Regions from separate parts of the Homo sapiens genome. Here region 2 is linked to region 1. The links come from fine-mapping of genetic effects on gene expression. A gene starts in region 1. The other region holds a variant in brackets. All regions are shown on one strand. Distances are between the middles of the regions. Region 1 holds the start of SIX5 (SIX homeobox 5). Region 2 overlaps MARK4 (microtubule affinity regulating kinase 4).

What was found.
Region 2: its variant is fine-mapped to the expression of SIX5 in esophagus muscle (GTEx, PIP 0.96).

The regions. Positions count from the first base shown.
Region 1 is chr19:45,760,467-45,775,012 of GRCh38, reverse strand. SIX5 (SIX homeobox 5) reads left to right here and starts at 5,761. Exons shown (of 3, transcript NM_175875.5): 1 at 5,761-6,971; 2 at 7,858-8,663; 3 at 8,902-10,228. The coding sequence starts at 6,169. The coding sequence ends at 9,512. MEIOSIN (meiosis initiator) reads right to left here. Exons shown (of 15, transcript NM_001310124.2): 12 at 13,146-13,334; 13 at 12,830-13,074; 14 at 11,586-11,675; 15 at 10,472-11,042. The coding sequence ends at 10,895. DMPK (DM1 protein kinase) reads left to right here. Exons shown (of 15, transcript NM_004409.5): 9 at 1-64; 10 at 2,261-2,372; 11 at 3,085-3,242; 12 at 3,348-3,445; 13 at 3,617-3,663; 14 at 3,953-4,042; 15 at 4,373-5,296. The coding sequence ends at 4,525. DM1-AS (DM1 locus antisense RNA) reads right to left here and starts at 7,217. Exons shown (of 2, transcript NR_147193.1): 1 at 6,882-7,217; 2 at 3,130-3,523. RefSeq lists enhancers at 2,865-3,422, 4,422-4,501, 4,942-5,051, 5,212-5,291, 6,783-7,342 and 2 more and silencers at 3,872-4,381, 4,622-4,781, 5,306-5,490, 5,342-5,881, 6,242-6,461 and 1 more.
Region 2 is chr19:45,286,350-45,300,895 of GRCh38, reverse strand. MARK4 (microtubule affinity regulating kinase 4) reads right to left here. Exons shown (of 17, transcript NM_001199867.2): 13 at 13,232-13,449; 14 at 6,444-6,547; 15 at 2,942-3,220; 16 at 1,041-1,085. Among named protein-coding and RNA genes, the nearest start is that of CKM, 29 kb to the left of the region's middle. RefSeq lists a silencer at 9,060-9,262. The variant G/A (reference allele first, on the strand shown) is at 7,825.

The sequences.
Region 1 (14,546 bases):
AAGGTGCGCCGCTAGGGGTCCACCTGCCTTTTGTGGGCTACTCCTACTCCTGCATGGCCCTCAGGTAAGCACTGCCCTGGACGGCCTCCAGGGGCCACGAGGCTGCTTGAGCTTCCTGGGTCCTGCTCCTTGGCAGCCAATGGAGTTGCAGGATCAGTCTTGGAACCTTACTGTTTTGGGCCCAAAGACTCCTAAGAGGCCAGAGTTGGAGGACCTTAAATTTTCAGATCTATGTACTTCAAAATGTTAGATTGAATTTTAAAACCTCAGAGTCACAGACTGGGCTTCCCAGAATCTTGTAACCATTAACTTTTACGTCTGTAGTACACAGAGCCACAGGACTTCAGAACTTGGAAAATATGAAGTTTAGACTTTTACAATCAGTTGTAAAAGAATGCAAATTCTTTGAATCAGCCATATAACAATAAGGCCATTTAAAAGTATTAATTTAGGCGGGCCGCGGTGGCTCACGCCTGTAATCCTAGCACTTTGGGAGGCCAAGGCAGGTGGATCATGAGGTCAGGAGATCGAGACCATCCTGGCTAACACGGTGAAACCCCGTCTCTACTAAAAATACAAAAAAATTAGCCGGGCATGGTGGCGGGCGCTTGCGGTCCCAGCTACTTGGGAGGCGAGGCAGGAGAATGGCATGAACCCGGGAGGCGGAGCTTGCAGTGAGCCGAGATCATGCCACTGCACTCCAGCCTGGGCGACAGAGCAAGACTCCGTCTCAAAAAAAAAAAAAAAAAAGTATTTATTTAGGCCGGGTGTGGTGGCTCACGCCTGTAATTCCAGTGCTTTGGGAGGATGAGGTGGGTGGATCACCTGAGGTCAGGAGTTCGAGACCAGCCTGACCAACGTGGAGAAACCTCATCTCTACTAAAAAACAAAATTAGCCAGGCGTGGTGGCATATACCTGTAATCCCAGCTACTCAGGAGGCTGAGGCAGGAGAATCAGAACCCAGGAGGGGGAGGTTGTGGTGAGCTGAGATCGTGCCATTGCATTCCAGCCTGGGCAACAAGAGTGAAACTTCATCTCAAAAAAAAAAAAAAAAAAGTACTAATTTACAGGCTGGGCATGGTGGCTCACGCTTGGAATCCCAGCACTTTGGGAGGCTGAAGTGGACGGATTGCTTCAGCCCAGGAGTTCAAGACCAGCCTGAGCAACATAATGAGACCCTGTCTCTACAAAAAATTGAAAAAATCGTGCCAGGCATGGTGGTCTGTGCCTGCAGTCCTAGCTACTCAGGAGTCTGAAGTAGGAGAATCACTTGAGCCTGGAGTTTGAGGCTTCAGTGAGCCATGATAGATTCCAGCCTAGGCAACAAAGTGAGACCTGGTCTCAACAAAAGTATTAATTACACAAATAATGCATTGCTTATCACAAGTAAATTAGAAAATACAGATAAGGAAAAGGAAGTTGATATCTCGTGAGCTCACCAGATGGCAGTGGTCCCTGGCTCACACGTGTACTGACACATGTTTAAATAGTGGAGAACAGGTGTTTTTTTGGTTTGTTTTTTTCCCCTTCCTCATGCTACTTTGTCTAAGAGAACAGTTGGTTTTCTAGTCAGCTTTTATTACTGGACAACATTACACATACTATACCTTATCATTAATGAACTCCAGCTTGATTCTGAACCGCTGCGGGGCCTGAACGGTGGGTCAGGATTGAACCCATCCTCTATTAGAACCCAGGCGCATGTCCAGGATAGCTAGGTCCTGAGCCGTGTTCCCACAGGAGGGACTGCTGGGTTGGAGGGGACAGCCACTTCATACCCCAGGGAGGAGCTGTCCCCTTCCCACAGCTGAGTGGGGTGTGCTGACCTCAAGTTGCCATCTTGGGGTCCCATGCCCAGTCTTAGGACCACATCTGTGGAGGTGGCCAGAGCCAAGCAGTCTCCCCATCAGGTCGGCCTCCCTGTCCTGAGGCCCTGAGAAGAGGGGTCTGCAGCGGTCACATGTCAAGGGAGGAGATGAGCTGACCCTAGAACATGGGGGTCTGGACCCCAAGTCCCTGCAGAAGGTTTAGAAAGAGCAGCTCCCAGGGGCCCAAGGCCAGGAGAGGGGCAGGGCTTTTCCTAAGCAGAGGAGGGGCTATTGGCCTACCTGGGACTCTGTTCTCTTCGCTCTGCTGCTCCCCTTCCTCAAATCAGGAGGTCTTGGAAGCAGCTGCCCCTACCCACAGGCCAGAAGTTCTGGTTCTCCACCAGAGAATCAGCATTCTGTCTCCCTCCCCACTCCCTCCTCCTCTCCCCAGGGACAGTGAGGTCCCAGGCCCCACACCCATGGAACTGGAGGCCGAGCAGCTGCTTGAGCCACACGTGCAAGCGCCCAGCCTGGAGCCCTCGGTGTCCCCACAGGATGAAACAGTAAGTTGGTGGAGGGGAGGGGGTCCGTCAGGGACAATTGGGAGAGAAAAGGTGAGGGCTTCCCGGGTGGCGTGCACTGTAGAGCCCTCTAGGGACTTCCTGAACAGAAGCAGACAGAAACCACGGAGAGACGAGGTTACTTCAGACATGGGACGGTCTCTGTAGTTACAGTGGGGCATTAAGTAAGGGTGTGTGTGTTGCTGGGGATCTGAGAAGTCGATCTTTGAGCTGAGCGCTGGTGAAGGAGAAACAAGCCATGGAAGGAAAGGTGCCAAGTGGTCAGGCGAGAGCCTCCAGGGCAAAGGCCTTGGGCAGGTGGGAATCCTGATTTGTTCCTGAAAGGTAGTTTGGCTGAATCATTCCTGAGAAGGCTGGAGAGGCCAGCAGGAAACAAAACCCAGCAAGGCCTTTTGTCGTGAGGGCATTAGGGAGCTGGAGGGATTTTGAGCAGCAGAGGGACATAGGTTGTGTTAGTGTTTGAGCACCAGCCCTCTGGTCCCTGTGTAGATTTAGAGGACCAGACTCAGGGATGGGGCTGAGGGAGGTAGGGAAGGGAGGGGGCTTGGATCATTGCAGGAGCTATGGGGATTCCAGAAATGTTGAGGGGACGGAGGAGTAGGGGATAAACAAGGATTCCTAGCCTGGAACCAGTGCCCAAGTCCTGAGTCTTCCAGGAGCCACAGGCAGCCTTAAGCCTGGTCCCCATACACAGGCTGAAGTGGCAGTTCCAGCGGCTGTCCCTGCGGCAGAGGCTGAGGCCGAGGTGACGCTGCGGGAGCTCCAGGAAGCCCTGGAGGAGGAGGTGCTCACCCGGCAGAGCCTGAGCCGGGAGATGGAGGCCATCCGCACGGACAACCAGAACTTCGCCAGGTCGGGATCGGGGCCGGGGCCGGGGCCGGGATGCGGGCCGGTGGCAACCCTTGGCATCCCCTCTCGTCCGGCCCGGACGGACTCACCGTCCTTACCTCCCCACAGTCAACTACGCGAGGCAGAGGCTCGGAACCGGGACCTAGAGGCACACGTCCGGCAGTTGCAGGAGCGGATGGAGTTGCTGCAGGCAGAGGGAGCCACAGGTGAGTCCCTCATGTGTCCCCTTCCCCGGAGGACCGGGAGGAGGTGGGCCGTCTGCTCCGCGGGGCGTGTATAGACACCTGGAGGAGGGAAGGGACCCACGCTGGGGCACGCCGCGCCACCGCCCTCCTTCGCCCCTCCACGCGCCCTATGCCTCTTTCTTCTCCTTCCAGCTGTCACGGGGGTCCCCAGTCCCCGGGCCACGGATCCACCTTCCCATGTAAGACCCCTCTCTTTCCCCTGCCTCAGACCTGCTGCCCATTCTGCAGATCCCCTCCCTGGCTCCTGGTCTCCCCGTCCAGATATAGGGCTCACCCTACGTCTTTGCGACTTTAGAGGGCAGAAGCCCTTTATTCAGCCCCAGATCTCCCTCCGTTCAGGCCTCACCAGATTCCCTCCGGGATCTCCCTAGATAACCTCCCCAACCTCGATTCCCCTCGCTGTCTCTCGCCCCACCGCTGAGGGCTGGGCTGGGCTCCGATCGGGTCACCTGTCCCTTCTCTCTCCAGCTAGATGGCCCCCCGGCCGTGGCTGTGGGCCAGTGCCCGCTGGTGGGGCCAGGCCCCATGCACCGCCGCCACCTGCTGCTCCCTGCCAGGGTACGTCCGGCTGCCCACGCCCCCCTCCGCCGTCGCGCCCCGCGCTCCACCCGCCCCTTGCCACCCGCTTAGCTGCGCATTTGCGGGGCTGGGCCCACGGCAGGAGGGCGGATCTTCGGGCAGCCAATCAACACAGGCCGCTAGGAAGCAGCCAATGACGAGTTCGGACGGGATTCGAGGCGTGCGAGTGGACTAACAACAGCTGTAGGCTGTTGGGGCGGGGGCGGGGCGCAGGGAAGAGTGCGGGCCCACCTATGGGCGTAGGCGGGGCGAGTCCCAGGAGCCAATCAGAGGCCCATGCCGGGTGTTGACCTCGCCCTCTCCCCGCAGGTCCCTAGGCCTGGCCTATCGGAGGCGCTTTCCCTGCTCCTGTTCGCCGTTGTTCTGTCTCGTGCCGCCGCCCTGGGCTGCATTGGGTTGGTGGCCCACGCCGGCCAACTCACCGCAGTCTGGCGCCGCCCAGGAGCCGCCCGCGCTCCCTGAACCCTAGAACTGTCTTCGACTCCGGGGCCCCGTTGGAAGACTGAGTGCCCGGGGCACGGCACAGAAGCCGCGCCCACCGCCTGCCAGTTCACAACCGCTCCGAGCGTGGGTCTCCGCCCAGCTCCAGTCCTGTGATCCGGGCCCGCCCCCTAGCGGCCGGGGAGGGAGGGGCCGGGTCCGCGGCCGGCGAACGGGGCTCGAAGGGTCCTTGTAGCCGGGAATGCTGCTGCTGCTGCTGCTGCTGCTGCTGCTGCTGCTGCTGCTGCTGCTGCTGCTGCTGCTGGGGGGATCACAGACCATTTCTTTCTTTCGGCCAGGCTGAGGCCCTGACGTGGATGGGCAAACTGCAGGCCTGGGAAGGCAGCAAGCCGGGCCGTCCGTGTTCCATCCTCCACGCACCCCCACCTATCGTTGGTTCGCAAAGTGCAAAGCTTTCTTGTGCATGACGCCCTGCTCTGGGGAGCGTCTGGCGCGATCTCTGCCTGCTTACTCGGGAAATTTGCTTTTGCCAAACCCGCTTTTTCGGGGATCCCGCGCCCCCCTCCTCACTTGCGCTGCTCTCGGAGCCCCAGCCGGCTCCGCCCGCTTCGGCGGTTTGGATATTTATTGACCTCGTCCTCCGACTCGCTGACAGGCTACAGGACCCCCAACAACCCCAATCCACGTTTTGGATGCACTGAGACCCCGACATTCCTCGGTATTTATTGTCTGTCCCCACCTAGGACCCCCACCCCCGACCCTCGCGAATAAAAGGCCCTCCATCTGCCCAAAGCTCTGGACTCCACAGTGTCCGCGGTTTGCGTTGTGGGCCGGAGGCTCCGCAGCGGGCCAATCCGGAGGCGTGTGGAGGCGGCCGAAGGTCTGGGAGGAGCTAGCGGGATGCGAAGCGGCCGAATCAGGGTTGGGGGAGGAAAAGCCACGGGGCGGGGCTTTGGCGTCCGGCCAATAGGAGGGCGAGCGGGCCACCCGGAGGCACCGCCCCCGCCCAGCTGTGGCCCAGCTGTGCCACCGAGCGTCGAGAAGAGGGGGCTGGGCTGGCAGCGCGCGCGGCCATCCTCCTTCCACTGCGCCTGCGCACGCCACGCGCATCCGCTCCTGGGACGCAAGCTCGAGAAAAGTTGCTGCAAACTTTCTAGCCCGTTCCCCGCCCCTCCTCCCGGCCAGACCCGCCCCCCCTGCGGAGCCGGGAATTCCGAGGGGCGGAGCGCAGGCCGAGATGGGGAATGTGGGGGCCTGCAGAGGACCCTGGAGACGGAGGCGTGCAGAAGCTCAGTCTCGGGGCGGAGGCTTCGCGCCCTTAGTCCTCCTGGACGGCCCGTTACCTTCTGCGTTGTCCCGATGGGGAAACTGAGGCCCTGAGCCAGAAGCACACGCTGGGGGGAGGCAGAAAGCGCGGCCAGAGGCGGAGGGAAAACAAAGGGAGAATCACAGACAGACGGGAGGGGGACGGACACACACAAGGGGACAGAGACCCGAGTGGAGAGCTGGATCTCGCCTTCCCGGCGTGGGGCGCAGGGTCGGCCAGAAAGAAGATCGAGAAGAGCGGGGAGTGGGGGCGAAAAGGGGGGACAGGTGGGGGAGGAGGCTGGGGAAAGCCCGAGGGAGGAAGAGAGGGAGGGAGGAACTTCCCAAAGTTGCAAAACATGGCTACCTTGCCTGCGGAGCCGAGCGCGGGGCCGGCGGCTGGGGGGGAGGCGGTGGCGGCGGCGGCGGCGACCGAAGAGGAGGAGGAGGAAGCGCGCCAGCTCTTGCAGACTTTGCAGGCGGCCGAGGGTGAGGCGGCGGCGGCGGCCGGGGCCGGGGCGGGCGCAGCGGCTGCGGGAGCTGAGGGCCCGGGATCCCCGGGCGTCCCCGGGTCGCCCCCCGAGGCCGCTTCCGAACCGCCCACGGGCCTCCGCTTCTCGCCCGAGCAGGTGGCGTGCGTCTGCGAGGCGCTGCTCCAGGCGGGCCACGCCGGCCGCTTGAGCCGCTTCCTGGGCGCACTGCCCCCGGCCGAGCGCCTACGTGGCAGCGACCCGGTGTTGCGCGCGCGGGCCCTGGTGGCCTTCCAGCGGGGCGAGTACGCCGAGCTCTACCGGCTACTCGAGAGCCGCCCCTTCCCCGCCGCCCACCACGCCTTCCTGCAGGACCTCTACCTGCGCGCGCGCTACCATGAGGCCGAGCGGGCCCGCGGCCGCGCGCTTGGCGCAGTGGACAAGTATCGACTGCGCAAGAAGTTCCCGCTGCCCAAGACCATCTGGGACGGCGAGGAGACAGTCTACTGCTTCAAGGAGCGCTCCCGCGCAGCGCTCAAGGCCTGCTACCGCGGCAACCGCTACCCCACGCCGGACGAGAAGCGCCGCCTGGCCACACTCACCGGCCTGTCGCTCACGCAGGTCAGCAACTGGTTCAAGAACCGGCGACAGCGCGACCGGACCGGGGCCGGAGGCGGCGCGCCCTGCAAGAGGTGAGGGGCCTCGGGCGGCGCAAGTCCAGCTCTCCCGGGGACATCCCGTCCACCAGCCCTCTTCCCCCGTGCCCACTGCTGGGGCCGGCGCGCCGAGGTCCTCGGACATCTCCCGGGACCAGCTCACAATCTCAGGCGCCCGCGGGGCGCGGGGACTAAGTGTGGACGGGACAGGCACCCGCCCGGGCCCTCTCCCCGCACGCGTCTCCTCTTCCAGCGGCTCCATTCCGAGCTCCTTCCCAAATCCCATCGGTGTTGGGGAATCACACTGCGGGGGGCACTAGAGGGACTGAGGAAAAAGGACAGGGCCTGTGGCCACTCCACTCCGCGTAGGGGCTGCCTCCCAGCCCCCTTTCTTCACTGACCGTTACTCTTACCCACCCGCCCCCACACTCCCTCCGGGCCCGGACGGCGTGGTCCGTCTTCTGCCTTTGTTGTGAAACGTGAACCTTTCCCAGCTCCGGTTTCCCTGTAACCCAAACCCTTCTCCTCCCACCCTGAGCGCCGGCCTCTCCCTTCTCTGACGCCCCGCGGGGAGGGCACCGGGAACTGGGCTGGCGGCTGCTGCTCCCTCTCTCCAGGCCACTCGCCCGCTTTCCGCCCAACCAAGGAACTTTTAGGGCAACCTGGGAGCTCAGCCTCTGGGGACCCGAGGCCGAGGTGGGGGAGAGCAAGGGCCTCTTCCCTCCCCAGCGCTTCTCTGCAGTGGTGTCCACGCAGGGCTTGCAAAAGGCCCTGGAGTTTGGAGTGGTCTCAGAGAGGCGTCATAACCCCTGGAATGATCCACCGAAACTTGGGCCAGGGAAAGGTGGGGGAGCAGCTGGCTGGCTATGCGGGAGGCCCCACAGGCTAAGGGACCCCAGCTGACAGCCATTTCTCCGGCCAGCGAGTCTGATGGGAATCCCACGACTGAGGACGAGTCCAGCCGAAGTCCTGAGGACCTGGAGAGAGGGGCGGCCCCAGTGTCCGCCGAGGCCGCTGCCCAGGGCTCCATATTCCTGGCAGGGACCGGCCCTCCCGCGCCTTGCCCGGCTTCCTCCTCCATCCTGGTGAACGGGAGCTTCCTGGCAGCCAGCGGCTCCCCAGCAGTGCTCCTCAACGGGGGCCCCGTCATCATCAACGGCCTGGCCCTGGGCGAGGCCTCCAGCCTGGGCCCGCTGCTGCTCACTGGGGGCGGGGGTGCCCCTCCACCGCAGCCCAGCCCTCAGGGGGCCAGCGAGACCAAGACCTCTCTGGTCCTGGACCCTCAGACAGGGGAGGTGCGGCTGGAGGAGGCTCAGTCGGAGGCCCCTGAGACCAAAGGGGCCCAGGTGGCTGCTCCGGGACCAGCCCTTGGAGAGGAGGTCCTGGGGCCCCTGGCCCAAGTGGTGCCTGGCCCCCCGACGGCTGCCACCTTTCCTCTGCCCCCGGGGCCAGTGCCTGCTGTGGCTGCCCCACAAGTGGTACCGCTCTCCCCACCCCCGGGGTATCCCACGGGCCTGAGCCCCACCTCCCCACTATTGAACCTGCCCCAGGTAGTACCCACCTCACAGGTGGTGACCCTGCCCCAGGCTGTGGGGCCCCTGCAGCTGTTGGCAGCCGGGCCAGGCAGCCCTGTGAAGGTGGCAGCTGCAGCAGGCCCTGCCAATGTGCACCTCATCAACTCCGGGGTGGGCGTGACTGCCCTGCAGCTGCCTTCGGCCACTGCCCCAGGTACCCCCATCTCCCTCCCTCAGGCCTAGGTGAGAGCCGGGGAGGGGTGCAGTCATCTCGGAGAGGGAGGGGCTGTCCCTGGGCTCCTGGAGGGCATCTCATCCCTGGCAAGTCCCAGTGCCCCAAGGCCCACCACAAGGCTCCCTCCGCCCGCCCTCCAGCTGCACAGTCTCCACTTCTCTCTGGCTTGGCCTGCTCTCCTGGCTCTCACCTGCGCTCGGTCCCTCTCTCCCCACAGGAAACTTCCTCCTGGCCAACCCTGTGTCTGGCAGCCCCATCGTGACGGGTGTGGCCCTGCAGCAGGGCAAGATCATCCTCACCGCCACCTTCCCCACCAGCATGCTCGTCTCCCAGGTCCTGCCGCCAGCCCCCGGCCTGGCCCTGCCACTGAAGCCAGAGACGGCCATCTCCGTGCCTGAGGGAGGCCTCCCGGTGGCCCCCAGCCCTGCTCTCCCAGAGGCTCACGCCCTAGGCACCCTTTCTGCACAGCAGCCACCCCCCGCCGCTGCCACCACCTCCAGCACCAGCCTGCCCTTCTCCCCTGACTCCCCTGGCCTCCTGCCCAACTTCCCGGCGCCCCCACCAGAGGGGCTGATGTTGTCACCCGCGGCCGTGCCTGTCTGGTCAGCAGGGCTGGAACTAAGCGCAGGAACAGAGGGGCTGCTGGAAGCGGAAAAGGGGCTGGGGACACAGGCCCCCCACACCGTGCTGAGGCTGCCAGACCCCGACCCTGAGGGGCTGCTCCTGGGGGCCACCGCAGGGGGTGAGGTTGACGAGGGGTTGGAAGCTGAGGCCAAGGTTCTGACCCAGCTCCAGTCGGTGCCTGTGGAGGAGCCCTTGGAACTGTGACCCAGTGTGGCCCCGTGGCCTCTCCCGACATTGGTGCTGAAGACGCAGGGACAGGAATGGGAGGGGGGAGCCCCAGAAATGCGGTTGCTGAAGACCCCAGTCACCACATCCTTCTGCCTGGGTGGCCTCTCCAAGCCCTGGTGGTGCTGGGGGTTGTATCCCCGGCCACCTCCTGTCCAGGTCTCCATCCCCCTTTGGATGGGAGGCCTCTCTGTTACAGCCCTCCCCATGCTGTGCCCTGCCATATACGTGGGGGACTCAGGGTCCTGACTCAGGGGCCCTGCCCCCTCCACTTGGTACTAGCTGTAAGCGGAACACCCTGCCCCAGGGCCGGACTTCCAGCCCCCAGAGCCCTCTCCCTGTCACTCCCTGAAACACTATTAATAGCTCTGCCGATAGCTGGTGTTGTCACAACTGCCTGGAATCCGAAGGTGGAGGACAGGCAGCCCCGCGCCCCTGAGACTGGAGACCCTCCCCAGTGTGGCATTTCCTGCCAGGGGCGGGGGGTGGGGCAGCTGTGGGGAGACGGGGGTCTTCCTTCACCAGCTCCCCTCGACTCAAGCCCTTGTCCTCATTATCCGGCCCAGACCAAAGATTCCCTCATCCCTGGGGGCAGCCCTGCCGCTGTGTCTCCTTTGTATCCTAAATCTTTATTTTTCTAGGACATGTTATGCCTCCATTTTCAATTAAAATAAAGTTATCGGATTACACCACCACCAGGGGTCTGGGGTGCCTTCCAGTGTCTGTCCAAAGCAGCGCTGAACACAGAGCCCACCTCGAGACCTGGCCTTCCCATTGCTGCCTCCCGAGGGGAAGAGGGGTTTGCATTCAGATGCACAGAGTGGCTGGGGAGGGGGTGGCACTGAGGCCTCTTGCAAGCCACAGGCCTCCAGATGAGGGTGGACGGAGCACCCCAGTGGGGCAGCAGGGGGACGCAGGAGGGCCTGCCCTTGTCTCTCTTGCTGGTAACAAAGGTTCCACTTGCTTTATTTTATTTAAAACAATAAATAGTCTAAAAATAGAACAGGAGAGGGAGGAGTAGGGTGAGGTGAGCATGAACAGGGTTGCAACCGAGTGGCTCTGGGGTGGGGAAGGGAAGGGGAGAGGGGTGGGTAAACTTCACCTTCCGACACCCCGCATTTCATTTTGGGTTTCCTTCCTAAGCCTGGGGGAGAATCAAGGCAGCTGTGGGTGACTCTGGTGCTCCAGGCAAATGTGCCCAGCGGTTGGGGCTAATCAGTGCCCCCCTCCCCAGTCCCATGGGACCTGCATTCTCAGGGGCTGGAGGCCCAGGAGGGACAAGTTCATCGATGGGTCCTGGCTTCCAGCAAGAGCCGCGGTTGCCATGAGGGGTGAGGGGAGCGAGGCGAGGGGCCGCCCTCTCACTGGAGGTGCGGGGGCAGCGGCAAGGCCTTCTCGGCCAGCAGCTGGTAGAAGGGCTTTGGCGTCTCCCAGTCCTCAGCCTCGCTGCTGGAGCCGTCCTGCTTCACGATGCGGTTGTGCTGGCGGCTGAACCTGCGAGCCTTGGTGCTGGGGAGACGGTGGCAGGATGGCCTGGCTTCCTCACTCGCCTCCCGGGCATCCCTGTACCACTCCCAATCCTGTGTCCCCGCAGGGGCCTGGGCCACCGTTTTAGCCTCTATTGGGCGAGCCTTGGGTCCACCAAGTCCCAGTCAGTAAGATGGGACTCGGCCAAGGGCTCTGGGATGTGTTCAAAGTCAGGAGCCAGGGCAGGTGGCAGCTCCTTGAAGGTGGAGGGGACAGGATTCGGGGGAGTCGAGGTGGCCAAGCGACAGGAAAATCAGACCACGCCCCGAGAAAGTCGTGTGGCAGAGACAGCAAAAGAATTGAGGCAGGGGTCCATGTCTGGGCTCAGCTGTTCCCCAGCTTAGCTGTGGTGGGGTACCCCTACACCTGTGTCACCCCCAAGGGTTTCATAAGAAGGGGCAACACGCAAATTCCTCGGCCCAGTCTCCCATGCCATGACACCCAAGGCTCCAGAGACAGAGCAGGGTTCCGGGGTAGGGAGGCTCTTCCACCCCCCACCCACACCTCGGGGCCGGAGCCTCTCACCAGTATGGCCTCCGCTCCTGCTGGGTCATCACCCGCCACAGCTGGGCCAGCTCCTTGGTGGCAGCTGTGGAAGCGGTTCCAGGGCAGGATCTGGGACAGGAAGGAGGAGGAGGTAAGGAGAGGTCTGCAGGACACCCTGACTGAGAACTCAGACCCTTCCTAGCCTTGTGGGTCTACAAGGCCTCCAAGACCACCCTCTGGAGCTGAGGAGGCAGAGGGAGCTGGACTCAGCGGCTGTTCACAAGGGGGCACCTGGTGTCCCAGGAGAGTGCAGGGGACCTGTGGGCACCGCTCCTGGCCCCCACATCTGGATCTTCCTGTAAAGGAACTAGCTGTTTTCCACTGTGGCTTGGGGGGGGCCTCCCCATCCCCTGGCTCCAGGCCTGGCAGTGACTGGTTCAGGGTTGGCACCGGATCTACCAAAGTCAGTCCCAAGGACTTTGCTTAAAACCTTAGAGACCTCTCCTCCTCCCGGGGTCGCTTGGGTGGGGGACAGGACCCGAGCCTGTGCCTCCTGGGGTGACCCCACCTGCCAGAGAATGAAGCCAGCCCGGAAGACAGAGGAACTGGGTGAAAAGGACAAAGATTCCAGACAGCCTGTGTGAGCCCTAAAACCAGCTATGTCTCAAGGCAGTCTATACCCGCCCTTGTTTTCTAGGTTATATAAGCCAATTCATTTTCTTTTCTTGCTGGGCCTGATGGCTCACACCTGTAATCCCAGCAATTTGAGAGGCCGAGGCAGGCAGATCACTTGAGGTGAGGCATTCGAGACCAGCCTGGCCAACATGGTGAAACCCTGTCTCTACTAAAAATACAAAAATTAGCTGATGGCGCGCCTGTTATCCCAGCTACTCAGGAGGCTGAGGCAGGAGAATCTGAGAGGCAGAGGTTGCAGTGATTTGAGCCCGGGAGGCAGACATTGCAGTGAGCTGTGATTGTGCCACTGCACTACAGCCTGGGCAATAGAGTGAGACTCTGTCTCAAAAAACAAAACAAAACAAAAAAAACTCCTTTTTTTCTGAAGTCTAAAGCCTGAATTGGGTTTCAGCGCTGACAATGGATGGACCCTGTCCAATACAATGGGGCCGGGTTCAGTTCTGGGGAAGAACTGTGGTCCACGAAGGGTTTGTGGGGTCTCGGAGGGGGAAAAAGTGTCAGACAGTTGTGAGGAGCGGCATGGCCAGGCTGCGGGCAGAGAACGAAGCCAGGGCCTTCCCCAGGGCCAAAGACGACCCCCTACCCACCGGATGTACTGCTTCCGGTTCATCCTGCAGAACATGATGAAGCCGTTGACACACTTCTTCTTCATCTGGGGTGGGCAGGGGCCTTTCTTCTTCTCCTTGGGCTTCACAGGGGCCCTGGCTACTTGGCCCTTCGTGGCCTTTTTCTCAGCTGCCAGCAGGGGTGAGGCCAGCCGGGTGGGGGTCCATGTGGTGTCTTCGTCCTCTTCGCTGGAGCCCGGCGTGCCCACAGGGTTGGCCTGCATATCCTGGGGGAGGGAGAGGGTGGTGAGAGAGGAAGGAGGCCCTGCTGGCCCTGGCATGCGGCCGTGTCTCTCACCTCTCGCTGCTTCCACAGGGGCTCCGAGTCGCTGTCCTCCGAGCTGGAGCTGGAGCTGGAGCTGGAGCTGGAGCTGGATGGCGCCTTGCTGTTCCCGCTCAGCGAGAGGTAGCAGTGGTCCAGCGAGACTGAGGACCGGTGCAGGCTGTGGGACTCAGGAGGGTCTTTGGGGGCCTTGGAGGCTGTGTCCTGGGGCATGATGAGGGAGAAAGATGGGAGGGGAGACAAGTGGTGCCCCTTCATCCCCCCAGTACTGCTTTTCTAGGACATAACATGAGCATTAGCAGCAGCTCAGATTGGCAGGGTGTGGTGGCTTACGCCTGTAACCCCAACACTCTGGGAGGCTGAGGCAGGAGGACTGCTTGAGGCCAGGAGTTACAGACCAGCCTGGGCAACATAGAGAGACCTTGTTCTACAAAAAAAAAAAAAAAAAAAAAAAAAAAATAGGCCAGGCGCAGTGGCTCATGCCTGTAATCTCAGCACTTTCGGAGGCTGAGGCAGGAGGATCACCTGAGGTCAGGAGTTCAAAACCAGCCTGGCCAACATGGCGAAACTCTGTCTAAAAATACTAAAAAATTAGCCAGGTATGTTGGTGGGCGCCTGTAGTCCCAGCTACTCTGGAGGCTGAGGCACAAGAATCGCTTAAATCCAGGAGGCGGAGGTTGCAGTGAGCCGAGATCGTACCACTGCACTCCAGCCTGGGTGACAGAGTGAGACTCTGTCTCAAAAAAAAAAAAAGAAATTGAATTAAGTTAAATTTAAAAATAATTTAAAAAACCAGCTGGGCATGGTGGTGTGGGAGGGTCATTTGAGCCCAGGAGTTCAAGGCACTGATCTATGATGGTGACACTGCACTCCAGCCTGGGCAACAAAGCAAGACCCTGTCTTTCTTTCTTTCTTCCTTTCTTTTCTTTTTTTTCTTTTCTTTCTTTTTTTTTTTTTTGAGACGGAGTCTTACTCTTGTCCCTCAGGCTGGAGTGCAATGGCACCATCTCAGCTCCATTCTCCACCTCTTGGGTTCAAGTGATTCTCCTGCCTCAGACTCCTGAGTAACTGGGGTTACAAGTGCCCACCACCACGCCCAGCTAATTTTGTATTTTTAGTAGAGAGGGGGTTTCATCATATTGGTCAAGCTAGGTTTAAACTCCTGACCTCAGGTGATCTGCCCGCCTCAGCCTCCCAAAGTGCTAGAAGTATAGGCATGAGCCACCACGCCCGGCCACACCCTGATAATTTCTTTTTCTTTTTCTTTTCCTTTTTTGAGACTGGGTTTCGCTCTTGTTGCCCAGGCTGCAGTCCAACGGTGCCATCTTGGCTTACTGCAACCCCCGCCTCCCAGGTTTAAGCGATTCTTCTGCCTCAGCCTCCTGAGTAGCTGGGATTACAGGCACGTACCACCAC
Region 2 (14,546 bases), 470 kb after region 1:
AATGATAGCATTCTACTTCCCGGCCACTGTGCTTGGGTCAAGGGTGACCACATGACCAGGTCTGACCAACCAGAGTACTTCTCCTCTCTGGCTGCAGGCATTGGTTTAGGAATGAGCATGTGACCAAGTCCCAACCAATGAGAGTCAGCCCTGGCAGTTTGTTGCAGCTGCTGGGAAGGCTCCGGTTTCCACTTGGGTCTCTAAACCGGGAACTCAGACAAAACCAGGGCTTGGCAAACTCCAGTGCTGTCTGCTTTTGTAAATAAAGTTTCATTGGAACACTGCCATACCCATTTGTTTTGTGTTGAATATGACTGCTTTTGCACTACAATGGCACAACTGAACAGGCGTGACACAGGGTGCCTGGCCCTCAAAGCCTAAAATCTTCATGATCTGGGTCCGTACAGATGTTTGCCTCCTGCTGGCCCTGAGCTGCCAGCAAACATTGTGCCATGACTGGATGAGAGGCAAAAGGAGGTGGGGGCATTGACCAGAAGAGGAGTTGAGTTGTGGATGGGATGAGGCTTTTTTTTTTTTTTTTTTTTTTTTTTCAGACGGAGTTTCACTCTTGCTACCCAGGCTGGAGTGCGATGGCACAATCCAGCTCACCGCAACCTCTGCCTCCCGGGTTCAAGCGATTCTCCTGCCTCAGCCTCCCGAGTAGTTGGGATTACAGGCATGCGCCACTACGCCCGGCTAATTTTTGTATTTTTAGTAACGACGGGGTTTCTCCATCTTAGGCTGGTCTCAAACTCCCGACCTCAGGTGATCTGCCTCCCTTGGACTCCCAAAGTGCTGGGATTACAGGCTTGGGCCATGGCACCCAGCCGGAGGCTGAAGTTTAAGATGATCAAGGGAAGGTGCTTGGGGTTGGGTGGGAATGAGAGGAGCTGGCAGAGAAGGCTGGGGCCACAGGGCATTTCAGGAAGTTGGCCTTGCAGGATGAGACTGGGGCCCCATCTAATGCCCTGGGGTAAGTGTCGGGAGGTGCTGAGGCAGGAGAGGGGAAGTGGCAGTCAGGGGTAGGCCCAAGCACTCACCTTGTGACCTCAGGTCCCCCGATTCTCTCAGGTTCGTCTGCGACCCTAGGGGAGGGGAGGGGGACAGAGTGTCTAATCTGGACATAGGGAACCCACCTCCCGCAACCCACTGCCTCTGGGACTCCAAGCAGCCCCTGCCTCAACCCCAGTCCCTCCGGGCTGGTGAGGGCCTGGAGTCAGGATTTGATCTCCTTGTCCATCCCCATAACGGGGCTCATTCTGAAATGGTTAGTGCAGGTCACAGGAAAGATACTGAAGAATGTGGAAGATGAAAGGGAGGGGAGTGGGCAGAGACACACCCTTACATAGATAAGTGGCCACAGAGAGAAAGAGAGAGACACACGCACGTGTGCACACACACACACTCCCTCGCTCACATATACATTCATGCTTTGCTCAAACAACACCTCCTTCGTGAGGCCTGCCCTTTTTTCTTTTTTTGAGACAGAGTCTCACTCTGTCATGCAGGAGTGGCGTGATCTCAGCTCGCTGCAGCCTCAACCTCCCAGGCTCAAGCAATCTTCCTGCCTTGGCCCCTGAAGTAGCTGGGACTACAGGCGCGTGCCACATCTGCTTTTTGTTTTTTGTTTTGTTTTGTAGAGATGGGGCTTTGCCACATTGCCCAGGCTGGTCTCAAACTCCTGGACTCAAGTCATCTGTCCAAAGTGCTGGGATTGCTGGCCTGAGCCACCTCATCCAGAGGCCTGCCCATTTAATGCTGCACCCCATCCCTTCCCCACACCCCTTATTCCCCTCCCTGTTCAATTTTTTTTTTTTTTTTTTTTTTTTTTAGAGACAGGTTCTCCCTCTGTTGCCAAGACTGATGATCATAGCTCACAGCAGCCTTGACCTCCTGCGTTCAAGTGATCCTCCTGCCTCGGCCTCCCAATTCCATGGGAATACAGGTGCAGTCACCACGCCCGGCCAATTTATTTACTTTTTTGTAGAGATAGGATCTTGCTACGTTGTCCAGGCTGGTCTTGAACTTCTGGGCTCAAGTGATCCCCTCGCCTCAGCCTCCCAAAGTGCTGTGATTACAAGCATAAGCCACCAAATTTGGCTCCTACTCTATTTTTCTTCTTAGTTACTTCGCACTACCTAGCAGTCTATATAGTAAGTATATTTTACTTATTTCTTTGTTTTTTGTCTAGATCCCTTAGTAGAATGTTGGGTCTGCCAGGGCAGGAGTTTTGTACATTTTGCTCACCCTCTACTACAGGGCCTAGGACAGTGCCAGGCACACAGTAGGGGCTCAATGAATAATAGCAATTAATAACTAATACACATGTAAAGCACTTTCCAAGGCAATGTTCTACGCTCAGTCCATACGTCACTTCATTTAGTCCTCACAATAACCCTAGGAGACAGGTATTGTTATTACTATACCCATTTTACAGAAGAGGAAAACCAGGCCCAGAGACCTTGAGTGACTTGCTCAAGGTCACTTGGCAGAGCTGCCATTTGAACCCCCGAGTCTGGCTCCATAGGCTGTGCTTCTGTGAGTAAATGAACAACCAGACCCCACGCACAGACCCTCACATCCACAGAGCCCCCTCCCAATGCCCGCACACACAGGTCAGACATGCAGGCAGGGAGGCAGAGCCAGCGAGAACAGGGCATGGACGGGACTTACTGATCTTGGATCCCTGGGGCAGAGAGGCGCCCGAAACACAGCGGTTAGAGTTCTGCCGTTTAGAGGGATCGAGGGTAACCCTGCAGTGTGAGGAGGGAGGTGAGGGGTGACAGGGGAGGAGGAAAGGAGGAGGAGGAGGAGGAAACGAGGAGGAGGAGGAGGAGGAAGAGGAAATGTTGGGGTACAGGAGACAGAGCAGAGTGGAAGACAGGTTAGGTCCCATCGGCCCCCCGCCCCGCCCTGCCCCTGCCATCCCCGCGGAGCTCACCTTCGGGTCAGTTTGGAGGTCAGCTTGGTGAAGAGGTTGGTGGTGGGGCGGGGCCGCCCGGCGGGCAGGGGTGCAGCCTCATGGGCCAGTGTGGGAGAGGCAGGGGGCCCATTCTGCACACCCCCACCACCCCCACCCCCTGCCCGCCGGTCCCGGACCTGGCCACCATGGAAGGTGCTGCGGATGGTGGAACCACGTGCCAGGCGGCTCCGCTCCCCTGATGGGGGTGCCAGGCTGTGACTGGAGGGGGAGGCAGGGGGCACCCGTGGGGTGCCTGAGCTGTGGGCAGAGACAGACAAGTCAGGGTGGGGGACTGAGGCAGGCCAGGGCCCCAGTCCCTTTGATTCTTCACATTCCTGTCCTGAGACCAGGGACTGCAACCAGCCTGGAACTCAGAGACAGGGCTGCAACGTACAGTTGTGCAGGCTGTGCACTATACAATCCTAGCATTATTTTACTGACTCTCTCCTCTCCTATTACCCCTCCTTCAAACTGTCCCTTCTTCAAACTCTACCCGCTCCAAATCATCTCCTATCACAACTCTCCTCTCTCTAAACGCAGCAACTGAATAGATGCACAGACATTTTTGGGTGACTTCCTTGCTATTTGCCGAAACCTCAGGAACCAAATCAACTTGGCAAACACTTTGCTATCTGAACTCTCACCATCTAAAATCAGGAAAGGGATAGATGTAAAGGTCAAGGATACCTGTATTCACTATGGTAATCTGGGCAGTGGGGGTTCCACTGTCCCAGGACCCTCCTCCAGCCCCTCGGACCCTCCTAGTCGACAGCAGGGGCCAGACCTCCATCTCCTGAGTTCAATTCTCCTGCCTCACCCTCCTGAGTAGCTGGGATTACAAGCGTGTGCCACCATGCCTGGCTAATTTTTTTTTTTTTTTTTTTTGAGACAGAGTCTCACTCTGTCACCTAGGCTGAAGGGCCATGGGGCAATCTTGGCTACTGCAACCTCTGCCTCCTGGGTTCAAGTGATTCTCCTGCCTCAGCCTCCTGAGTAGCTGGGACTATAGGCATGCAGCACCACGCCTGGGTAGTTTATGTATTTTCAGGAGAGATGGGGTTTCACCATGTTGGCCAGGCTGGTCTCAAACTCCTCACCTCAGGTGATCCACTGGCCTTGGCCTCCCAAAGTGCTGGGATTCCAGGTGTGAGCCACTGCGCCCAGCCCAGACCTCCAATTTCTATCCTCCCAGGGACTCCAGGCCCAGCCTGGATCTCAGAGAAGAATCCTGATTGTGGCAGAGGCTGTTACTTCTCCCTTAGAATCCATCCTCCCTGTTTCGTTCTTGGTAACCAAACCCCTAAGAGTATGAGCACTGCACATGGCCACCCAGCCAGAGACTACATTTCCCAGACTCTCTTGCAGCTAGAGATGGTTATGTGACCATGCTCCGGCCAATGGGATATAAGCAGAAGTGCTCTGTACCATCTCTGGGTGACGCCTTTACAAAGAGTTGTTGCTTGTCCCCTACTCTTTCCCCACTTCTTCCTGATTGGGAAATGATGGCTGCTGGTGCAGCGGCCTCAGTCCCAGAGCTGGAAACTCATTTTGGGGCTGGAAGAACTTACCTGGGTCCTTGGAGGACCCTCCGGACTAAACGTCCTTTTTATTTAAATTACTCTACCCTGGGATCTCTTTGTTTTTATTACAGCAGCTAGCTGAGTCTATACTTTTTATTTTTTGTTGTTTTTAAATTTTTTTTTAATTTTTGATTTTTTTTGTCTGAGTCTGTAATTTAACTGTTCCACTATCTCTTGAGCAGAACTGGAAGGCCATGTACTACAGTGATTACAAATAAGATTCTGGAGTCAAGTCTGGAATCTGCTTCTTGACTTACCAGCTGTGTGGCCTTGGATAAGTTACTTAACCTCTCTGTGCCTTATGTCCTCAGCTGTAAAATGGAGATATTAGGATCTACCTCACAGAGTTGTTAGGGGCACTGAGCCAGGCAATAGACATAGAAGCCTGGCATGTAGCTGCTGCTTCATGAATGTTCACTATTGTTATTTGATAACCACCAAAAAAAAGCACTCTCAAGTCACTGAATGAAGGCCTCCTAAGCATCAGACCCAGTGCCAGGTACAGGACACACCTGATCTCTACTGCATCTCTATAATGGGGCCTGGAAGTGGACAGCATCAGCCCTTTTTTTTATGAGACGGATTCTTGCTGTGTGGCTCAGGCTGGAGTACAGTGGCGCAATCCCAGCTCACTGCAACCTCTGCCTCCCAGGTTCAAGCGATTCTCCTGCCTCATTCAGCCTTCTGAGTAGCTGGGATTACATGCACATGACATCGTTCCTGGCTAATTTTTGTATTTTTAGTAGAGACAGGGTTTCATCATGTTGGCCAGGCTGGTCTCGAACTCCTGACCTCAGGTGATCTGCCCACCTCGGCCTCACAAAGTGCTGGGATTACAGGTGTGAGCCACCATGCCCGGCCAGCATCAAGCCCATTTTACCGAGGAGGAAACAGAGGCACAGGGATTTACCCGGTCATTCTGCTAGCAGTGTGAGCACAGAGGTAAGATTCGAACTCAGAACTGAGTATTCACAGAATCGTGACTTTTTTTTTTTGAGATGGAGTCTCGCTCTGTTGCCCAGGCTGGAGTGCAGTGGCGTGATCTCGGCTCACTGCAAACTCCGCCTTCCAGGTTCACGCCATTGTCCTGCCTCTGCCTCCAGAGTAGCTGGGACTACAGGTGCCCACCACTGCACCCAGCTAATTTTTTTTTTTTTTTGGTATTTTTAGTAGAGACGGGGTGTCACCATGTTAGCCAGGATGGTCTCGATCTCCTGACTTCTTGATCCACCTGCCTCAGCCTCCCAAAGTGCTGGTATTACAGGCATGAGCCACTGTGCCTGGACAGATTTGTGACTGTTAACTACCCCATTCCTCTGCCCACACCCAGTGGGAACACCTGCACCCACTAATCAGGTGCATCCCAGAGTGTGCCCTGGTGTTGGCCATCAACCTGCCCTACAGCCCTGGTGGGGGGCAGTGTCCTCATCCTGGAGCTGGCCCCATTCTAGCTGGCCTTGACCTGTGATGTGAACCAATCCCTTCCCTCTCTCTGCTCCAGCCAGTCTGAACTGGTTTCCCTCCCTTGCCAGCTGGAAGAGACCTCACAGACTCAGGCCAACAAGCCGGAAAACCAGCCAACCAGATGACGCTGAAGCTGTGACATTCTGGGGCTTCTCTCGAGTTCTAAAAATGGATCATTCAAAAAATCAATTCAGGTTCCCAAGGCTTGTAGGCGGAGAACAGGGCCAACTGCTTTCCTGGTGCTTAAGACTAATTAATTAAGTGGGGAGGATTTTCAGGGGGGTACATGGGTCGATTCTGCCAAGGGCAGGGCAGATACACTCACTCTCTGGTCCCCATGGCACCAGCCTCCAATGCCTATCATCTCAGATCAAGGGAGGTCCTGTTCACCTACCCCCTACTTCCCACCCCTCACCCTGTTGCTGCCCCCTCCGTACCTGTTTTCTTTCCCATTTGGCAACAGTGACGGGCGCTCAGCCCCCGGGCGTTCTGTGCAAACGTAGGTGTTTCTGCGGGTCATCATGCTAGGAGGGAGGTTGTTCTGCAGGAGACACAGCCAGGAAGGGAGTGAGGGGGTGAAGACATGCCCCTGAGCTTCTCCCTCTTCCCTTCTCTGCCCTCCCCATCGATGAATAAGTCAGGGGCTCATGTGGGAACCCAGGGTGAGTAGGAGATGGTGAAAGGTCCCAAAGATGTGAAAGGTTCATGAGTAATCCCAGCCACCGAGGCTGAGTCAGGGGAGACCCCTGGAGACCGGAGAAGAGGGGGGCACTGAGGGAAAACGAGGCAGGGAAGGTTTCCAGGGGGCATCCTTGTCCACCGCTCTTCTCCCAGCAATGCCCACCTTCTTGAGGTCCAGCCCAGCCACACCAAACGTTTGCTAATGTACTTATTCATGCCACATTCTGTCACTGTGACTAGCCTGTGCACTGGCTGTCTCACCTGTTAGAACATTACTCCTACCTTTTCCCCTGACTCACTCCTACATATCTTTCAGGTGTCAGTTCATAATCTACCACCACCCCCGGCCCCAGGCTGAGTCACGTGCCTCCTCCTTTGGGTTCCCACAGGCCCCTGGGCTCCCCACTGCAGCTTCAATCACTGTGCTGTCAATGTCTGTTCTCATATATGTCCCCATCCCATACTGGGCTGTGAGCTCTGGGAACACAGGGAATATCAGGATTATGCTGCCTCATAAACATGTTAGGAAGAGAGCCCTCTTTTTCTATTCTCTGGAAGTTTGTCTAAGGTTAGTGTTATTTCTTCTTTAAGTGTTTGGAAGAATTCCACTGGTGGGAGTCATCCAAGCCAAAAATTTTCTTTATAGGGAAGGTTTTCAGTTACGAATTCAATTTCTTTAACAAGAATATAAGACTGTTCAGGTTTTCTATTTCTTCTTGTGTCAGTTTTGATACAGTGTGTTTTTAAAGTAATGTGTCCATTTCATCTAAGCTGTTAAATTTATTGGCACAAAGTAGTTCCTAATATCATCTTACTATCTTTTAATGTTAGAACAAAGTTCCCCTTTTCATTGTGGATACTGGTGATTCATGTTTGCTGTCTTTTTTCCTTAATTGATTTTTACCAGGGGTCCATTGGATTTTATTTATTTATTTATTTTTTTGGACAGAGTTTCACTCATTTTGCCCAGGCTGGAGTGCAATGGCATGATCTCAGCTCACTGCAACCTCCACCTCCCAGATTCAAGTGAACCTGCCTTAGTCTCCCGAGTAGCTGGGATTACAGGTGTGGACCACCACATCCAGCTAATTTTTTGTATTTTTGGTAGAGATGGGGTTTCACCATGCTGGCCAGGCT[G/A]GTCTCAAACTCCTGACCTCAAGTGATCCACCCGCCTCAGCCTCCCAAAGTGCTGGGATTACAGGCATGAGCCACCACGCCCAGACTGATTTTATTAATCTTTTCAAAAAACCAACTTTAGGTTTTGTTGCTTTATTGTACCTCTTCTTTCTCCTTCACTGATTTATTCTCTTTAATGCCTCCTCCCTTCTACTTTTTTTGAGATGGGGTCTTGTTCTGATGCCTAGGCTGGAGTGCAGTGGGGTGATCATGGCTCACTGCAGCCTCGACCTCCTGGCCTCAAGTGGATCCTTTCACCTCAGCCTCCCAAGTAGCTAGAACCTCAGGCATGTGCCACAACACTTAGCTAATTTTTATTTTTGGCAGAGACAGGGTCTATGTTGTCCAGGCTGGTCTTGAACTCCTGGGCTCAAGCAATCCTCCTGCCTCAGCCTCCCGAACTGCTGGGATTACAGGCATGAGCCACCAATTCCGGTCCCTTCTACTTTCTTTGAGGTTTATTTGCTTTTCCTTTTTTACCTTCTTAAGGTGTGGGTTTCGTTTAGCAATAACAATAGCTCTCATTCACTGAGTGCTTACTGTGCCAGTATGTGAAGTACTTCACGTATGAGATCTTACAAGATCCTCACAATGACCCAGGTTCTTTAATGAGCCCATTTCACATAGTGAGATATCAAAGATCAGAGAGGTGAAGTTACTTGCCCAAGGTCACACGGCTCATTAATGTAATTCAAACTCTACGTGGCTTCAGAGTCCCGGCCACTTTCTCAAACTGCCTCCACCCTTTTTCTCTTTTTTAAGAGATAGGATCTCACCATGTTGCCCAGGCTGGTCTCGAACTCCTGGCCTCAAGCAATCCTCCCACCTCAGCCTCCCAAGTAGCTGGGACTACATGTGTGTGCCACCATGTCCAGCTCTGCCTCCACTCTCCTGTTCCTATGTTGAGGATATTTTCGTACTTTGCTGTTCTTGGGAACTCAGATGCAAAAAAGCCAAGTCCTACATTTCCCAGAATCCTTTGCAGCTCAGGTTCTGCATATAAGTTGGGTTCTGCCAATCTTTGCATTCATGAAGATTTGGAAGGTGGAAATGGGGCAGCAGCTGCTCTCCTGCCTGCTTTGACTTCAGCTCACACAGGCAAGGCTATGAGATGAAGGTCTTTGCTTCAGCAGGGCCCCAGTGCCTATTGTCCAGCCCTCTGGGCATCAAGAAGCTCTTCTGATGGAGGATGAAGTTTTTGAGTCTTGGGTTACAGCCATGACAATGTGGTTTTTTGTTTTGTTTTGTTTTGAGACAGAGTCCCACCCTGTCACCCAGGCTGGAGTGCAGTAGGGCAATCTCAGCTCACTGCAACCTCCGCCTCCTAGGTTCATGCCATTCTCCTGCCTCAGCCTCCCGAGTAGCTGGGACTACAGGTGCCCGCCACCAAGCCCGGCTAATTTTTTGTATTTTTAGTAGAGATGGGGTTTCACCGTGTTAGCCAGGATGGTCTCGATCTCCTGACCTCGTGATCCGCCCGCCTCAGCCTCCCAAAGTGCTGGGATTACAGGCGTAAGCCACCGCGCCTGGCCCTAATTTTTGTATTTTTTGTACAGATGGGATTTTGCCATGTTGGCCAGGTTGGTCTTGAACTCCTGACCTCAAGTGATTCACCGCCTCGGCCTCCCAAACTGTTGGGCTTACAGGCATGAGCCACCATGCCTGGCCTAACAATGCACTCTTGAATTCACCAGTGCTGGGGCAGCCTCAGAAGGAGCAGCTCCCTTGGTGGGTCAGTTCTGTGGTGTGGTTGTGACTGTTGTTCCTACAAATCCCACCCATTGTCCGCTCCTCCAGTCCTTCCTACAATTTTGTTTTCTTTTTTCTTTAACCACCTCATCCTCTCCTTCTTTGGCCCTGCCGCTCCCATCCATTCTCTGGGTTGTGGATCATTCTCTGACACACGGGCCTCAGAGGCTGCATTGTGAAGCTCCAGGTCTCGGGGCTGGGGAAGAGCCAAGGGGCATGAATTTGTACTTATCCGGAATACTCAGGACACACAGGCATCCCGGCCTCCCTCCTGTGCCACCTGCCTGAAGTTGAGCTGATGCCTTCAAGATCTGTTTCCCCAAGGCCCTTCTGCTGTTAGGTAGCCAGTGAGCTGTCCTCAGGTGCACCCTCTCCTGGCCCATCCCCACGGGGTTCCCTCACAACATTCCACTCCCCTCCCTGTACTGACCCCGGGCTCTGCACAGCCCTGGAGTCCAGGGCCCTGAACCTGGACTAGCAGTCCTCACAGGTGGTGGCAGGGTCACAGCTAGCCAAACCAAACACAGCCGGTCATTGCCAGTTGCTGCTGGCTACTGCTGGTCATGGCCAGACACTGCTGGTCAAAGCCTGTCACAGCCAGTTAAGGCTGGTCATGGCCAGTCACCAACAGTCAGGGACAGTTAAAGCTGGTCATAAGTGGTAATAGCCAGACACCACTGGTCACAGCCAGATACCGTTGGCCAAGGGTTGTCACGGCCAGTCAAGGCTGGTCAAAGCCGGTCACAGTCAGTTGCTGCTGGTTAATACTGGTCATGGCTGGACACTGCCAGTAAAGGCTGGTTAATGCTGGCCACAGCTGGCTGCCACTGGTAACAGGTGGACACTTGTGGTCAAAGCTTCAGTGGGGCCCTGTCAGGCACTGCCAGTGAAGGCCAGTCACAATCAGTCAAAGCCGGTCAAGGCTGGTGAATGCTGGTAACAGCCAGACACCACCAGCCACCACGGCTGGGTGCCTCCTGATGGTCAGGACCTCTGGAGAAACACCCCTACCTCGCAAACAGCCATGCAGTGAGACCTTGGTTTGCCTTGGGTGTTTAGAACCAAAATAAACTGGAAGTACCCAGGGGCACCAAGAGCACTAAGAAGAAGTTAAAAAGATGAATGTTCTCAAGAACGTACGAGAAAAATTAGTATTTAAAAACTTTTTTGTTTGTTTCTTTGAGACAAGGTCTCCCTCTGGAGACTCCCAGGCTGGAGTGCAGTGGCACGATCTTGGCTCACTGCAACCTCCGCCTCCTGGACTCAAGTGATCCTCCTCCCTCAGCCTCCCAAGTAGCTGGGACTACCAGCACGTGCCACCACCACACCGGACTAATTTTTCTATTTTTTGTAGGGAAGGGGTCTCACCATTTTGCACAGGTTGGTCTCGAACTCCTGAGCTCAAGCAATCCACCCACCTCAGCCTTGCAAAGTGCTGGAATTACAGGCGTGAGCCACCATGTCTGACTAAAAACTTAATTTTTATGACTTTTTGTTTTGTTTTGTTTTGTTTTGAGACAGAGTCTTGCTCTGTCGCCCAGGCTGGAGTGCAGTGGCGTGATCTCGGCTCACTGCAACTTCTGCCTCCTGGGTTCAAGCAATTCTCCTGCCTCAGCCTCCTGAGTAGCTGGGATTACAGGCGTGCACCACCACGCCTGGCTAAGTTTTGTATTTTTAGTAGAAATGGGGTTTCACCATGGTGGCCAGGCTGGTCTCGAACTCCCGACCTCATGATCCGCCCACCTTGGGCCTCCCAAAGTGCTGAGATTATAGGCATGAGCCACCGTGCCCAGCCAACTTATTTGTTAAAGAGCAAAATCTTATGGTAAAGGATAACTATAAGTATTTTGTGTCTGTGTGGGTGGTGACCCATGCTTTTTTTTTTTTTTTTTTTTTTTGAAACAGAGTCTTGCTCTGTCACCAGGCTGGAGTGCAGTGGCACGATCTCGGCTCACTGCAACCTCTGCCTCCTGGGTTCAAGCAATTCTCCTGCCTCAGCCTCCTGAGTAGCTGGGACTACAGGCATGCGCCACCACAGCCAGCTAATTTTTGTATTTTTAGTATAGATGGGGTTTCACCATGTTGGCCAGGTGGTCTCGATCTCTTGACCTCATGATCCACCCTCCTCGGACTCCCAAAGTGCTGGGATTATAGGCGTGAGCCACCGCGCCTGGCAGGTGACCCATACTTTTAAAAGTTTAGGCCCACAATTGGCTCAGACTCACACCTGTGTGCACCCTGGTCAAGGCTGGGACTTGACTGGTAGTAACCTGCCGTGACCAGCCTCGAAAGGCCAAGGGCACAGCCACGTGGGGCGGCTACTGAACATGTGCAGAGCAGAAGAGCAGGGAGTGGGACCGAATGTAGATGCCGGAAGAGCTGAGGAGCTGGGGAAGCTGCTGCTGCTTCCCACGACTTTTTTTTTTTTTTTTTTGAGACAGAGTCTTGCTCTGTCACCCAGACTGGAGTGCAGTGGTATGATCTTGGCTCACTGCAACTTCTGCCTCCCGGGTTCAAGCGATTCTCCTGCCTCACCCTCCAGAGTAGCTGGGACTACAGGTGCATGCCACCATGCCCAGCTAATTTTTTGTATTTTTAGTAGAATTGAGGTTTCACTGTGTTAGCCACGACGGTCTCGATCTCCTGACCTCATGATCTGCCCGCCTTGGCCTCCCAAAGTGCTGGGATTACAGGCATGAGCCATTGCACCTGGCTTTTTTTTTTTTTTTTTGAAATGGAGTCTCACTCTGTCACCTATCCTGGAGTGCAGTAGCGCAATCTTAGCTCACTGTAGCTTCCGCCTCCTGGGTTCAAGCGATTCTCCTGCCTCAGCCTCCCAAGTAGTTGGGATTATAGGTGCCCGCCACCACGCCCAGCTGATTTTTATATTTTTAGTAGAGACGGGGTTTCACCATATTGGCCAGGCAGGTCTCAAATTCCTGACCTCAAGTGATCCGCCCACCTCTGCCTCCCAAAGTGCTGGGATTACAAGCGTAAGCCACTGTGCCTGGCCTGATTTTTTAAATTACTATTAATATTTTATTTATTGATTTATTGAGACAGGGTTTTGCTCTGTCACCCAGAATGGAGTGCAGTGGCGGGAACACAGCTCCCTGTAGCCTCAACCTCCTGGGCTCAAGTGATTCTCCCACCTCGGTCTTTCGAGTAGCTGGGACCACAGGTACATAACATGATGCCTGGCTAATTTTTTTGATTTTTAGTTGAGATGGCGTCTGCTATGCTTCTTGAACTCCTGGCCTCAAGTGATCCTCCCGCCTCGGCCTCCCAAAATGCCAGGATTACAAGCATGAGCCACTGTGCCTGGCCTTTCCCACATTTTTAAAAGCACTTAATTTCCTGTATTAAATCCTTTCTGCCAAGAGTACGTTCTGCACTTCTTTGACACAGAACACTAATTTATACGCTAACATCAAATGTTAGTGTATAAACTGAGCTCAGGCAAACAGAGGCACTCGATAAATGTTTGTTGAATGAATGAATGGGTAGAAGAAGGAGTTGGTAAGAAGGAGTTCCGTCTGGGGAATGAGATGAAGGCAGGGCCTGAGGAATGTGGCCCAGGTGGCGCCCCCAGCCCTGCCCCCCAGCCCTGGTCACTCACGGGGGTGCTCGTGCTGTCCTTCCGCCGCTCTGGGATCTCTGCCTTGTTGGGGTTGTGGGCGCTGCTGACCATGGGGCTGGAGGGGGGCAGCCCTCGACTCCCACTCCCCGCGGTGCTGCAGCTCGCCTTCCGGCCTGGCAGCCGCTCCTCCTTCAGCTCCGCCTCCCCCGTGCTCGTCGGGCTGCGTTTGGGGTGCAGGGGTGCAGGGGATGGGCCACCTGGGGGAGGGGGTACCGTTTAGAGCTGGCATCACCACGGAAACCCAGAACTGACTCTGGGGGATCGTTGGAACCTGAGAATTCCTCACGTGGGTTGCAATCTCTGTGTGGGCCATTCTGACAATATCTGTCAAAATTACCTCAAGATTACCAACGCACATATACTGACTTAGAAACTCCAAATCAATGACATCATGCACATACAGGCCATTCATTGCACCTTCTTTTTTTTTTTTTTTTTTTTGAGACAAAGTCTGGTTCTGTTGCCAGGCTGGAGTGCAGTGGTGCGATCTCCGCTCACTGCAACCTCCACCTCCTGGGTTCAAGCAATTCTCCTGCCTCAGCCTCCCAAGTAGCTGGAATTACAGGTGTGTGCCACCCCACCTGGCCTGTACCATTAGACTGGGAACAGCCTAAATGCCCCTTAGTAGAGGAATGACTAGATAAGTCAAGGTATTTCCACAGTGGAAAATTATGCAGCTATAAAAAAGAATAAGGAAGCACTTTATGCACCAGTACAGAATGATCTTCATGACGGACTGGAAAGTAGAAAAGGCAAGACAAGAGATGGGTCAACAATGTGTTATCATTTGTCTACAAAAGCAAAAAAGTGTGTATCTATATCTACTTGCTTATATATGAATATCTCCAAAGGACTATAACTTGTTTCAAAAGGGGAGAATTTATTGTTTTTATATATCTTAAGTTTCCTTCTTTTTTTTAATTTTTTTATTGAGACAGGATCTCACTCTGTTGCCCAAGCTGAAGTACAGTGGTGTGACCTCAGCTTGCTGCAACCTTGGCCTCCTAGGCTCAAGCCATCCTCCCACTTCAGCCTCCCAAGTAGCTGGGACTACAGGCACACACTACCATGCCCACCTAATTTTTGTATTTTTTTTTGTAGAGACAGGATTTCGCCATGTTGTCTAGGCTGGTCTCAAACTCCTGGACTCCAGCGATCCTCCCACCTTGGCCTCCCAAAGTGCTGGGATTACAGGCGTGAGCCACCGCACCCGGTCCCATATTTATCTCTTTACATGTTTGTTTATGAATAAAATCTCTCCAAAGGAATTCATATTAAAACCCATAACAGGGCC